2 linked regions of the Homo sapiens genome follow. Changing the gene in region 2 together with the main gene of any one other region gives a genetic interaction. Each region holds a gene or a part of one and is shown on either strand. Other genes may lie near its edges. The genes, in order: BCL2 and ITLN1.

What was found.
Region 1: of ITLN1 (region 2) and BCL2, extra expression of one rescues a mutant of the other (dosage rescue), as found in Homo sapiens cells (one study listed by BioGRID).

The regions. Positions count from the first base shown.
Region 1 is NC_000018.10:63,122,715-63,127,928, reverse strand, and holds the end of BCL2 (apoptosis regulator Bcl-2), read left to right. Parts: 3' UTR 1-4,583; downstream 4,584-5,214. UniProt on the Homo sapiens protein: Suppresses apoptosis in a variety of cell systems including factor-dependent lymphohematopoietic and neural cells. Regulates cell death by controlling the mitochondrial membrane permeability. Appears to function in a feedback loop system with caspases.
Region 2 is NC_000001.11:160,882,005-160,889,623, forward strand, and holds the start of ITLN1 (intelectin-1 precursor), read right to left. Parts: upstream 3,177-7,619; 5' UTR 3,057-3,176; intron 2,880-3,056; 5' UTR 2,874-2,879; coding exon 2,816-2,873; intron 1,523-2,815; coding exon 1,424-1,522; intron 201-1,423; coding exon 1-200. UniProt on the Homo sapiens protein: Lectin that specifically recognizes microbial carbohydrate chains in a calcium-dependent manner.

The sequences.
Region 1 (5,214 bases), on a different chromosome or scaffold from region 2:
TAAATCATAGGAAAGTATTTTTTTAAGCTACCAATTGTGCCGAGAAAAGCATTTTAGCAATTTATACAATATCATCCAGTACCTTAAGCCCTGATTGTGTATATTCATATATTTTGGATACGCACCCCCCAACTCCCAATACTGGCTCTGTCTGAGTAAGAAACAGAATCCTCTGGAACTTGAGGAAGTGAACATTTCGGTGACTTCCGCATCAGGAAGGCTAGAGTTACCCAGAGCATCAGGCCGCCACAAGTGCCTGCTTTTAGGAGACCGAAGTCCGCAGAACCTGCCTGTGTCCCAGCTTGGAGGCCTGGTCCTGGAACTGAGCCGGGGCCCTCACTGGCCTCCTCCAGGGATGATCAACAGGGCAGTGTGGTCTCCGAATGTCTGGAAGCTGATGGAGCTCAGAATTCCACTGTCAAGAAAGAGCAGTAGAGGGGTGTGGCTGGGCCTGTCACCCTGGGGCCCTCCAGGTAGGCCCGTTTTCACGTGGAGCATGGGAGCCACGACCCTTCTTAAGACATGTATCACTGTAGAGGGAAGGAACAGAGGCCCTGGGCCCTTCCTATCAGAAGGACATGGTGAAGGCTGGGAACGTGAGGAGAGGCAATGGCCACGGCCCATTTTGGCTGTAGCACATGGCACGTTGGCTGTGTGGCCTTGGCCCACCTGTGAGTTTAAAGCAAGGCTTTAAATGACTTTGGAGAGGGTCACAAATCCTAAAAGAAGCATTGAAGTGAGGTGTCATGGATTAATTGACCCCTGTCTATGGAATTACATGTAAAACATTATCTTGTCACTGTAGTTTGGTTTTATTTGAAAACCTGACAAAAAAAAAGTTCCAGGTGTGGAATATGGGGGTTATCTGTACATCCTGGGGCATTAAAAAAAAAATCAATGGTGGGGAACTATAAAGAAGTAACAAAAGAAGTGACATCTTCAGCAAATAAACTAGGAAATTTTTTTTTCTTCCAGTTTAGAATCAGCCTTGAAACATTGATGGAATAACTCTGTGGCATTATTGCATTATATACCATTTATCTGTATTAACTTTGGAATGTACTCTGTTCAATGTTTAATGCTGTGGTTGATATTTCGAAAGCTGCTTTAAAAAAATACATGCATCTCAGCGTTTTTTTGTTTTTAATTGTATTTAGTTATGGCCTATACACTATTTGTGAGCAAAGGTGATCGTTTTCTGTTTGAGATTTTTATCTCTTGATTCTTCAAAAGCATTCTGAGAAGGTGAGATAAGCCCTGAGTCTCAGCTACCTAAGAAAAACCTGGATGTCACTGGCCACTGAGGAGCTTTGTTTCAACCAAGTCATGTGCATTTCCACGTCAACAGAATTGTTTATTGTGACAGTTATATCTGTTGTCCCTTTGACCTTGTTTCTTGAAGGTTTCCTCGTCCCTGGGCAATTCCGCATTTAATTCATGGTATTCAGGATTACATGCATGTTTGGTTAAACCCATGAGATTCATTCAGTTAAAAATCCAGATGGCAAATGACCAGCAGATTCAAATCTATGGTGGTTTGACCTTTAGAGAGTTGCTTTACGTGGCCTGTTTCAACACAGACCCACCCAGAGCCCTCCTGCCCTCCTTCCGCGGGGGCTTTCTCATGGCTGTCCTTCAGGGTCTTCCTGAAATGCAGTGGTGCTTACGCTCCACCAAGAAAGCAGGAAACCTGTGGTATGAAGCCAGACCTCCCCGGCGGGCCTCAGGGAACAGAATGATCAGACCTTTGAATGATTCTAATTTTTAAGCAAAATATTATTTTATGAAAGGTTTACATTGTCAAAGTGATGAATATGGAATATCCAATCCTGTGCTGCTATCCTGCCAAAATCATTTTAATGGAGTCAGTTTGCAGTATGCTCCACGTGGTAAGATCCTCCAAGCTGCTTTAGAAGTAACAATGAAGAACGTGGACGTTTTTAATATAAAGCCTGTTTTGTCTTTTGTTGTTGTTCAAACGGGATTCACAGAGTATTTGAAAAATGTATATATATTAAGAGGTCACGGGGGCTAATTGCTGGCTGGCTGCCTTTTGCTGTGGGGTTTTGTTACCTGGTTTTAATAACAGTAAATGTGCCCAGCCTCTTGGCCCCAGAACTGTACAGTATTGTGGCTGCACTTGCTCTAAGAGTAGTTGATGTTGCATTTTCCTTATTGTTAAAAACATGTTAGAAGCAATGAATGTATATAAAAGCCTCAACTAGTCATTTTTTTCTCCTCTTCTTTTTTTTCATTATATCTAATTATTTTGCAGTTGGGCAACAGAGAACCATCCCTATTTTGTATTGAAGAGGGATTCACATCTGCATCTTAACTGCTCTTTATGAATGAAAAAACAGTCCTCTGTATGTACTCCTCTTTACACTGGCCAGGGTCAGAGTTAAATAGAGTATATGCACTTTCCAAATTGGGGACAAGGGCTCTAAAAAAAGCCCCAAAAGGAGAAGAACATCTGAGAACCTCCTCGGCCCTCCCAGTCCCTCGCTGCACAAATACTCCGCAAGAGAGGCCAGAATGACAGCTGACAGGGTCTATGGCCATCGGGTCGTCTCCGAAGATTTGGCAGGGGCAGAAAACTCTGGCAGGCTTAAGATTTGGAATAAAGTCACAGAATTAAGGAAGCACCTCAATTTAGTTCAAACAAGACGCCAACATTCTCTCCACAGCTCACTTACCTCTCTGTGTTCAGATGTGGCCTTCCATTTATATGTGATCTTTGTTTTATTAGTAAATGCTTATCATCTAAAGATGTAGCTCTGGCCCAGTGGGAAAAATTAGGAAGTGATTATAAATCGAGAGGAGTTATAATAATCAAGATTAAATGTAAATAATCAGGGCAATCCCAACACATGTCTAGCTTTCACCTCCAGGATCTATTGAGTGAACAGAATTGCAAATAGTCTCTATTTGTAATTGAACTTATCCTAAAACAAATAGTTTATAAATGTGAACTTAAACTCTAATTAATTCCAACTGTACTTTTAAGGCAGTGGCTGTTTTTAGACTTTCTTATCACTTATAGTTAGTAATGTACACCTACTCTATCAGAGAAAAACAGGAAAGGCTCGAAATACAAGCCATTCTAAGGAAATTAGGGAGTCAGTTGAAATTCTATTCTGATCTTATTCTGTGGTGTCTTTTGCAGCCCAGACAAATGTGGTTACACACTTTTTAAGAAATACAATTCTACATTGTCAAGCTTATGAAGGTTCCAATCAGATCTTTATTGTTATTCAATTTGGATCTTTCAGGGATTTTTTTTTTAAATTATTATGGGACAAAGGACATTTGTTGGAGGGGTGGGAGGGAGGAAGAATTTTTAAATGTAAAACATTCCCAAGTTTGGATCAGGGAGTTGGAAGTTTTCAGAATAACCAGAACTAAGGGTATGAAGGACCTGTATTGGGGTCGATGTGATGCCTCTGCGAAGAACCTTGTGTGACAAATGAGAAACATTTTGAAGTTTGTGGTACGACCTTTAGATTCCAGAGACATCAGCATGGCTCAAAGTGCAGCTCCGTTTGGCAGTGCAATGGTATAAATTTCAAGCTGGATATGTCTAATGGGTATTTAAACAATAAATGTGCAGTTTTAACTAACAGGATATTTAATGACAACCTTCTGGTTGGTAGGGACATCTGTTTCTAAATGTTTATTATGTACAATACAGAAAAAAATTTTATAAAATTAAGCAATGTGAAACTGAATTGGAGAGTGATAATACAAGTCCTTTAGTCTTACCCAGTGAATCATTCTGTTCCATGTCTTTGGACAACCATGACCTTGGACAATCATGAAATATGCATCTCACTGGATGCAAAGAAAATCAGATGGAGCATGAATGGTACTGTACCGGTTCATCTGGACTGCCCCAGAAAAATAACTTCAAGCAAACATCCTATCAACAACAAGGTTGTTCTGCATACCAAGCTGAGCACAGAAGATGGGAACACTGGTGGAGGATGGAAAGGCTCGCTCAATCAAGAAAATTCTGAGACTATTAATAAATAAGACTGTAGTGTAGATACTGAGTAAATCCATGCACCTAAACCTTTTGGAAAATCTGCCGTGGGCCCTCCAGATAGCTCATTTCATTAAGTTTTTCCCTCCAAGGTAGAATTTGCAAGAGTGACAGTGGATTGCATTTCTTTTGGGGAAGCTTTCTTTTGGTGGTTTTGTTTATTATACCTTCTTAAGTTTTCAACCAAGGTTTGCTTTTGTTTTGAGTTACTGGGGTTATTTTTGTTTTAAATAAAAATAAGTGTACAATAAGTGTTTTTGTATTGAAAGCTTTTGTTATCAAGATTTTCATACTTTTACCTTCCATGGCTCTTTTTAAGATTGATACTTTTAAGAGGTGGCTGATATTCTGCAACACTGTACACATAAAAAATACGGTAAGGATACTTTACATGGTTAAGGTAAAGTAAGTCTCCAGTTGGCCACCATTAGCTATAATGGCACTTTGTTTGTGTTGTTGGAAAAAGTCACATTGCCATTAAACTTTCCTTGTCTGTCTAGTTAATATTGTGAAGAAAAATAAAGTACAGTGTGAGATACTGGTTGTGCCTGGAATTGTTTATAATGTGTTAACATGATTTTGCCCTGCCATTCATCATCATTACACAAGACTTTGAAAAGCCTTCTTAACAAGCCAGTAAAATCACCAGGACCCTACTCTAATGAAGCCCTCAGGGACCAGGCTAAGGGATTGCCTTACAGGTGAAACCACCTTAGAAGGAGACTCTTGTTTCTTGGTAATAACCCTCCTGGTTAGGTACAAGATAGACCAGTCTTGAGTTCTACTCCCTGGGAGAGCTACTGTTGCTGTTGAGTGTGTTCTTCCATATAGACCAGAGATCCCAGCCTCTGCATTTTATAAGATGAAATGTGTATGAAAAAGAGGGAAATAAGCTGAAAGTTCTGTTTTGAAGTCAACATTTTTAGATGGAACCAAAGCAGCTACTTGCTTTGGAGCAGGTGAACCCTAAATGGCAAGGGATCTGATGTTTCCCACTGGGTTCAGGTCCTGATACCCTAATCCTCAACCCTTCAAGTCACATCACTTAGACTCAATTAAAAGGACTCTGATAGTAGCATTCATCTGTTGAGCACCTGCTGGATACAACACTGTATGCATACTACCTTTTGCTCTCAAACCTTTCAAGGTAGGTATTGGCCTCTTGTATTTTG
Region 2 (7,619 bases):
GTTGGCCCAGTTGCCGTCCCCCTCTGGGTAGACTGCTTTGCTGCCCTGCTGACTGGACCAGCGATCGCCCACCGTGCACTTCCCACGCATGTCATTCTCGTGCACGCTGGCCACCAGGGTCCAGCCGCCACCCCCAGAGGTCATGTCACAGAAGGTCTGGTAGATAACACCATTCTCAGTGCGGAGAAAATACAGGCCATCTGTAGAGAGAACCAGCCCAGAGCCTCCCTGTCTGAGAGCTGAGGGTTCATTTCAGCCCCATGACAAGAAAGGCCCTAGGAACCAGAGACATGGCCTAAAGGCTCCTGTCCTGACTCACATCACTAAGTGCTCCCAGGGGTACTGGGGCCTCCCTGAGTTCAGAAGATCATGCTCCTGTAACTGAGGCAGAACATAGAATTGTATAAAATCCCAGTGACATTTTTCATAAAGTTAAACATGGAATTATTGTATGACCCAGCAATTCCACTGCAGGTCTATCCCCAAAAGAATTGAAAACAGGGCCTCAAGCTGATGCTTTTACACCAGTGTTCATTGCAGCATTAGTCACAAGAGCCAAATAGAAGAAACAATTCAAATATTCACCAACAGGTGAATGAATAAACAAAACATGGTGTGTGTGCATATATGTATCTGCAGTGGATAAAAGGGAATGAAATATCCATGCTACAGCATGGACAAACCCTCAAAACACTGTGCTAAGTGAAATAAGCCAGACACCAAAGGACAAATACCATATGACTCCAATTACATGAGGTAACTACACTAGGCAAATTCATGGAGATAGAAAGTAAAATGCAGCTACCAGAGACTGAGGGAAGAGAGTTATTGCTTAATAACTCCATGTTATTTTTTGTTTTGTTTTGTTTTTGTTTTTGTTTTTGAGATGGAGTCTCACTCTGTTGCCCAGGCTGGAGTGAAGTGGCACTATCTTGGCCCACTGCAACCTCTGCCTCCTGAGTTCAAGCGATCCTCCCACCTCAGCCTCCCAAGTAGCTGGAATTACAAACATGTACTCCACACCCAATTGATTTTTGTATTTTAGTAGAGACAGGGCCCCACCATGTTAGCCAAGCTGGTTTCAAACTCCTGGCCTCAACTGATCCACCCCTCTCAGCCTCCTAAAGTGCTGGGATTACAGGCCTGAGCCACCGCACCCGGCCCCTCCATGTTATTAAGTACAGAGTTTCTGTTTGGGGCACTGAAAAAGTTCTGCATATGGATAGCTGTGATGGTTGCACAACCTTGAAGGTAATTAATGCCACTGAATTGCACACTTAATGTTGCTTAAAATGGCAAATCTTATGTAAATTATAATATACATATACTTTACCATAATTTTTTAACTAAAAGACAAAAAGACTCCCAGAAGACACAATCCTGATACCCTGACTGAGCTCTGTTTGAATGTTTCATCACTCACCAAATGCACTAGGACATTCGTCTTTGATTTCCTTGCAGCTTCTGGGCAGAGATGGAGACGAAGAACAGGTCCATTCCTTGAAGTAAGTATTAGCCTCATCTAGGGAATACACAGGGTTTATTCTCATTCCCGGTTTGACACAAAACCTACCCTCTCCTATCACTAGTCCCACGCTCATTCCACCACTGTAGCAGAACCTCGCTGCCCGGGTGGTAAGGCCTGAGACAGCCAGTGTCATATCCACTCAGCCCATCAGTGTCACATCCACTCAGCCCATCGGCATCATATCCACTCAGCCCATCCGACCTGACAGCCAGCACAGGCTTAAAGTCTGCCTCCCGCCACAAGACCTGTCCTTGTGCTGGGTCCTGCCCTAAGCACTGAGTAATCAAAGACATTAAAGTTCCCCAGCAAGAGCTTGCCTCTAGAGGGAATTGCTAACAAGTCAACAGAAAATTGTATTGACAAGAATAAATGGTAGAAGAAAGGCAAACTCAAGAGAACAAAAGAAAGACTCTGAGGTAACAGTGGAGAATGGAAACGCCAGACAGTAAGCGGGGCAGTTGCCTGGGAGAAGAAGGCAAGACGGGTTGTCTCATGTCTTAGTCACAGAAGACCTTCCAGTCCAGGTGACATCTTAGCTTATTCTGAGAGAATAAACATGATTTATCAGTAGGAAGCCAATCCAAGGCAGGGAAAACAGCATATCCAAAGGCCTAGAGAAAAAAAAAAAAATACAGCGTAGTCCAGCTGTAGAACTACAAGCTGCTTAATATGGCTGAAACATGGGGTGTGAAGTAGGGAGTGGTGAGACTAATCTCTACTCCAAAAAGTCTGCAAACTATTCGAACAGTCTAGGGGAAAGCTGTGAGGTCAGAGGTGACTGACCTCAGTTTCCTCATACCTAAAACACAGTTAATAAACAGTGCTTTTGCAAAGATGAAGTAAGAAGATATTTCGAAACAGCCTTTTCTTTAAAAAAAAAATTTTTAGACGTGAAGAAAAATATAAATTTTAAAATGTCATTGTTATTCTTGTTGTAGAGAGGAAAACTGTGGAGAGAACATTCTCCAGGCACAAAGCAGACCATGTAGTTCCCATGGAAATCCCACAGCCAAGGCCACAGGAGTGGGCAGTGGCTGGAAGGTGACACAGTTCTTGCCACAGCCCCCTCAGGGCCACACAAAAGCACAGAGCCTGGACCCAGGACATGCCTCAAGCAATACCTTCACTGCCACAGGCCAGATTCCGCCAGAGACCAGAAATCGGCACTCAGTCTACATGCAAGCCAGCCGCTGTGCATCTCAAGGACATGCTCTGTGTCCTGGGAGAGACCAGGATCCCGGAAGTCATCCAGCTGAAGGAACTGCTGTCCCTAGCAGCGTGACTCACCTGTACTCCATCCTCTGGTGGTCGCTATGAGAAACAGCAGGAAGCTGAGTTGGTTCATTGTAATCTAAAGAAAGCAAGATGAAGGTCACCATCTTGGCCATCATTTTTCTCTACATCCCTGCCCCACCCCTGTCCAGTCTTACAAAGACTCCAAAACCCCTTGCCTTTTGTTTAAACTTCACACATCTCTGAGACCAAAAGCAGACCTAAGCTGAAAACAGGATTCCCCCAACTCACAGACCTTGTCTGAGTCTCAGCTGCACTTTCCTTGGGTACAGAGAGCTCCTTCACTCCCTCCCTCCACTGCGCCCTGGAGCTCAACAGAGTGCAGCTTTCTCCAAAAACGCTCCTGATGTGGAATGAGGTGCAGAAAGCTTTATGGAGGAAGCCCAGTGGGGCCAACCAAGGTTTCCAGCCTCACCCTCCCCTGGCACAATGCCCAGTGCAGGGGAGGCTTCTGGTTATCTCGGGGAGGTTATTTATACAGTGGAATTAACAGGTTCTAAAGAAAAAACCAATCCTAAGAATCACCTGCTAGCGTTGTTCCTGGATCTGGGGGTTTCATGGACCTGTGTCAAGTAGGAAGTAGACGAAGAGATTAACAAGAGTTGGTGTTGGTTTTGGGTTTTTGTGCCTTTCTTTCTTGCAAAATAAAAACTTTCTCTAAATTAAGCATCTGTTGGCTTGGCACATTGGCTCAAATCCCAATACTTTGGGAGGCCAAGGCAGAAGGATCACTTGAACTCAGGAGTTTGAGACCAGCCTGGGCAACATAGGGCAACCTCTTCTCTACTAAAAATAAAAGTAAAAAAATTAGCATGGCATGGTGGTACTTGCCTATAGTTTCAGGTGGGGCTGAGGCAAGGCAAAAGGGTAACTTAAGTCCCAGAGATAGAGGATTCAGTGAAATATGACCGTGCCACTGTACTTCAGCTTAGGTATCTCAAAATAAATAAATAAATGAAATTAATCATTGGCCATAATTATCAATTCATAGAAATAGAAAAAGGAAATTTTAACAAAATGGGAAAGTGATCATTTCTGAATAAATTGGTAAAAAGGAATGGAGGGGAAAGAGATACAAAACACACAAAAAAATACGAATAGAAAAGTTTTAAAAAATATATAAATCTTTAGTTTGAATAATTTAGTTTCACACAAAGACTCACTACTTTGTCTTTAATTTTGTCATTTTGCCACAAACGAGGGAAAATTTACTACAGGATTCATTTGAAACTGAATCAATACGAAACCTCTCTGCTGCTTCGAACCTCCTGTCTTATTCCTGCTCCTATGTCATGAAGTTCTCAAATGCTACCCTGCAGCTGTAATAGAATTACTCAGTTCTTCCCCAGTGATATCATACATTTAATACATAATGTCATTATAGCATTAATAATACTGCAACCTTTTCTTACAAAGATTGTGAATATCTTTTTTGTTAAGCTAATATTTCCTATTTGTTGGTTCAAAGTACTGATTTGCAAAAAATACTCACATATTGATAGAAGAAAATAAAATAGCACCCAAGAAGAAAAACTGCAAAAAAAAGTTATACTTTTGTAAATTTAAAATCTATTAGAAGCTATTTGCTCTGTGTATCTGGAAAATAATTAATTAAATAAAATTAAATGTATTAGAAACTAAATTAACTCATCAGTATAGGTAACAAAATGAACATACCCAGCTTTCATATTTACAAACAACAACCTCTTAGAAATAGAGGTCTCAGCCAGGCGCTGCGGCTTACACCTGTAATCCCAGCACTTTGAGGGGACGAGGGTGGCCAATCACTTGAGGTCAGGAGTTCAAGACCAGCCTGATCAACACGGTGAAACCGTGTCTCTACTAAAAATATAAAATTAGCTGGGCACGGTGTCAGGCGCCTGTAATCCAAGCTACTCGGGAGGCTGAGGCAGGAGAATTGCTTGAACCCGGGAGGCAGAGGTTGCAGTGAGCTGAGATCGCACCATTGCACTCCAGCCTGGGCAACAAGAGTGAAATTCCATCTCAAAAAAAAAAAAAAAAAATAGAGGTCTCTAAGTTTACAGTTCACAATAGTAAATACATGTATATAAAGTTAACACCAAGGGCCCAAGATCTAGAGAAAAAAATTAAACATCCCCTCAGTTGTTCATTACTGTGTGTAACTAACCACCTGAAAACTTTATGGCTTAATAAAACAGTAACATATTTGCAAAAATAAAAAAAGAAAATATACACTTATACTACTTTCTTTAGTTGATTCTAAGACACTTTTTTTGTATTTTGACATCTTTAATATCATTATGCATCTCATCCTTAATGGTACATGATGCCATCTAATAGACTGGGAAAACAGTACATCCATTTTAAGGACATTACCCCTTCTAACCATCATCATCCAATCAGTGATTGCGTCCCATTGATTCTACCCCTACTTCCTCTTGAATCTGTTCCCCACACAACTTCCTCCAAACCCCACTGCCCTGGACATTTATTTAGTTCAGTCTGGTTCCTTGTAGCTGTAACTAATAGAAACCCCATCTCAAAGTGGCTTTTCTAAAAAGTAAATCTATTACCTCATGAAATAGAAAATCGAGAGAGAGGGCAAGATCCAGGCTTGCTTGACAGCAGCTTCTCTTTATTTTATTTTATTTATTTATTTATGTTGAGACAGGGTCTCACTCTGTTGCCCAGGCTGGATGGAGTGCAGTGACACAATCTCAGCTTACTGCAGCCTCAACCTTCCAGGCTCAGGTGATCCTCCCACCTCAGCCTCCCAAGCACCTGGGAATACAGGCACACACCACCACACCCTGCTAACTTTTGTATTTTTGGTAGAAACGAGTTCTCACCATGTTGGCCAGGCTGGTCTCGAACTCCTAGGCACAAACAATCCTGCCTCAGCCTCCCAAAGTGCTGAGAGTATAGGTACGTATGTGACAGTATAGATGTGCATGAAGATAGAAGAGTGTGGAAGAAAGCCCCTCACCACCAACTCACTCCAGCCCCACATCTACATCTCCAGTGACTTGGAGAAGGTTTGTTGTAAAATTACACATACAGAGAAAGATATAAAACATTAAATGTGCAGTTTAATAAATTACAAGAAAGGCAAATACCTGTGTAATTATCATCCTAGCTAAGAAATGAAACTTTAGCAGCACCCAGAAGCTTCCCATATGCTGCTTCCAGATAACAGACCTCTCCCTTCCCAAAGGTAATTACTGGCCTGACTGTGATGGAAATCAGCACTTCCTTGTGCCCATACCACATTGTTCCAAATATTTTAGATTGATAAAATGTCTTGATATCCAGTAGAGCAAGGCTTCTCACTTTGCTCTTCTTTTTTGGTTATTCTTGGTCGTTTACCTCTACACATACACACACACACACACACACACACACACACACACACATGCACACACCCTTTAGGATTTTATTGGAATTACATTGAATCTATAGATCATTTAGAAATAATTTACGTCTTTAAAATATTGAGTGTGGCCTGTTTCTTCATTTATTTGTGTTTTTATTGCTTTTTCGTATCTTATAGCTTCCTTATAGGGATTTTGTGTATGATTTGCTATTTGTTCCTTAGTATTTGACTTTTTTTTTCTTTTTTTAGACAGGGTCTCACTCTGTCACCCAGGCAAGTGATTCTCCCACCTCAGCCTCCTAAGTAGCTGAGAACACAGGTAAATATCACCACGGCCAACTAATTGTTTTATTTTTTGTAGAGATGGGATCTCACTATGTTGCCCAAGCTGGTCTCAAACTCCTGGGCTCAAGCAATCCTCACACCCTTGGCCTTCCAAAGTGTTGGGATTACAGGCGTGAGCCACCATGCTGGCAGTGTTTGACATTTTTGATGCTATTATAAATGCCATATTTTTGAAATTTTATTTTCTAATTGTTTGATGCTTATATATAGAAATACAACTGATTTCACAAATATATATATATTTGTGAGATATATATATATTTGTAAGATATATATATATCTCAATGACAGCACAGGAAAGACAAAGTATCAAAATAAATATAAATTTTCAGCTTGAATAAATTTAGTTTTATGAAAAATAATATTTTTTCTTACTTTTCTCATTTTGCTACAAACCAATGAAAACACTCTTTTGGTGGGGGGTCATTCTAGAGTAGCACTGGCCCCCAGACTACATTTTGGAATCACTGATCCAGGACAAACTTCCTCTGATGCTTCAATACCTGCTTTGCCATTTCTGTCCCAGTGTCACTCCTCAATTTCCTGAGCATAAATGTCACTCATGCCTCTTCTCCCTCAACAATGGGATGGATCACTTCCTGCCCGGTGTTGCCACATCCCTTATGCCCATTATTATCTTAACACGATAACATGACCTTTTCACTGTTTACATGTTTCTCACAGCAGTTCTTAAGAAAAGGTTTATGAGGCACCATATTTGTTAAGCTAATACTTTATTTGTGGAGAGAAAATATTGAACTATATATTTTCAGATATATTAACAAAAGGAAATAGACTGTATCTAGGTCCAAGACAAATATTCGATTTTTTTTTTTTTTTTTTTTTTGAGACATGGTCTTGCTCTGTCACCCAGGCTGGGGTGCAGTGGTACAATCATGGCTAATTGCAGCCTTGACCTCCTGGGCTCAAGCGATACTCCCACCTCTGCCTCCTGAGTAGCTGAGACTACAGGCACATGCCACCACACCCAGATAATTTTCTAATTTTTTTTAGAGATGGGGTCTCACTATGTTCCCCAGGCTGGTCTCTAACTCCTGGGCTCAAGTGATTCTCCCACCTCATTCTCCCAAAGTGCTG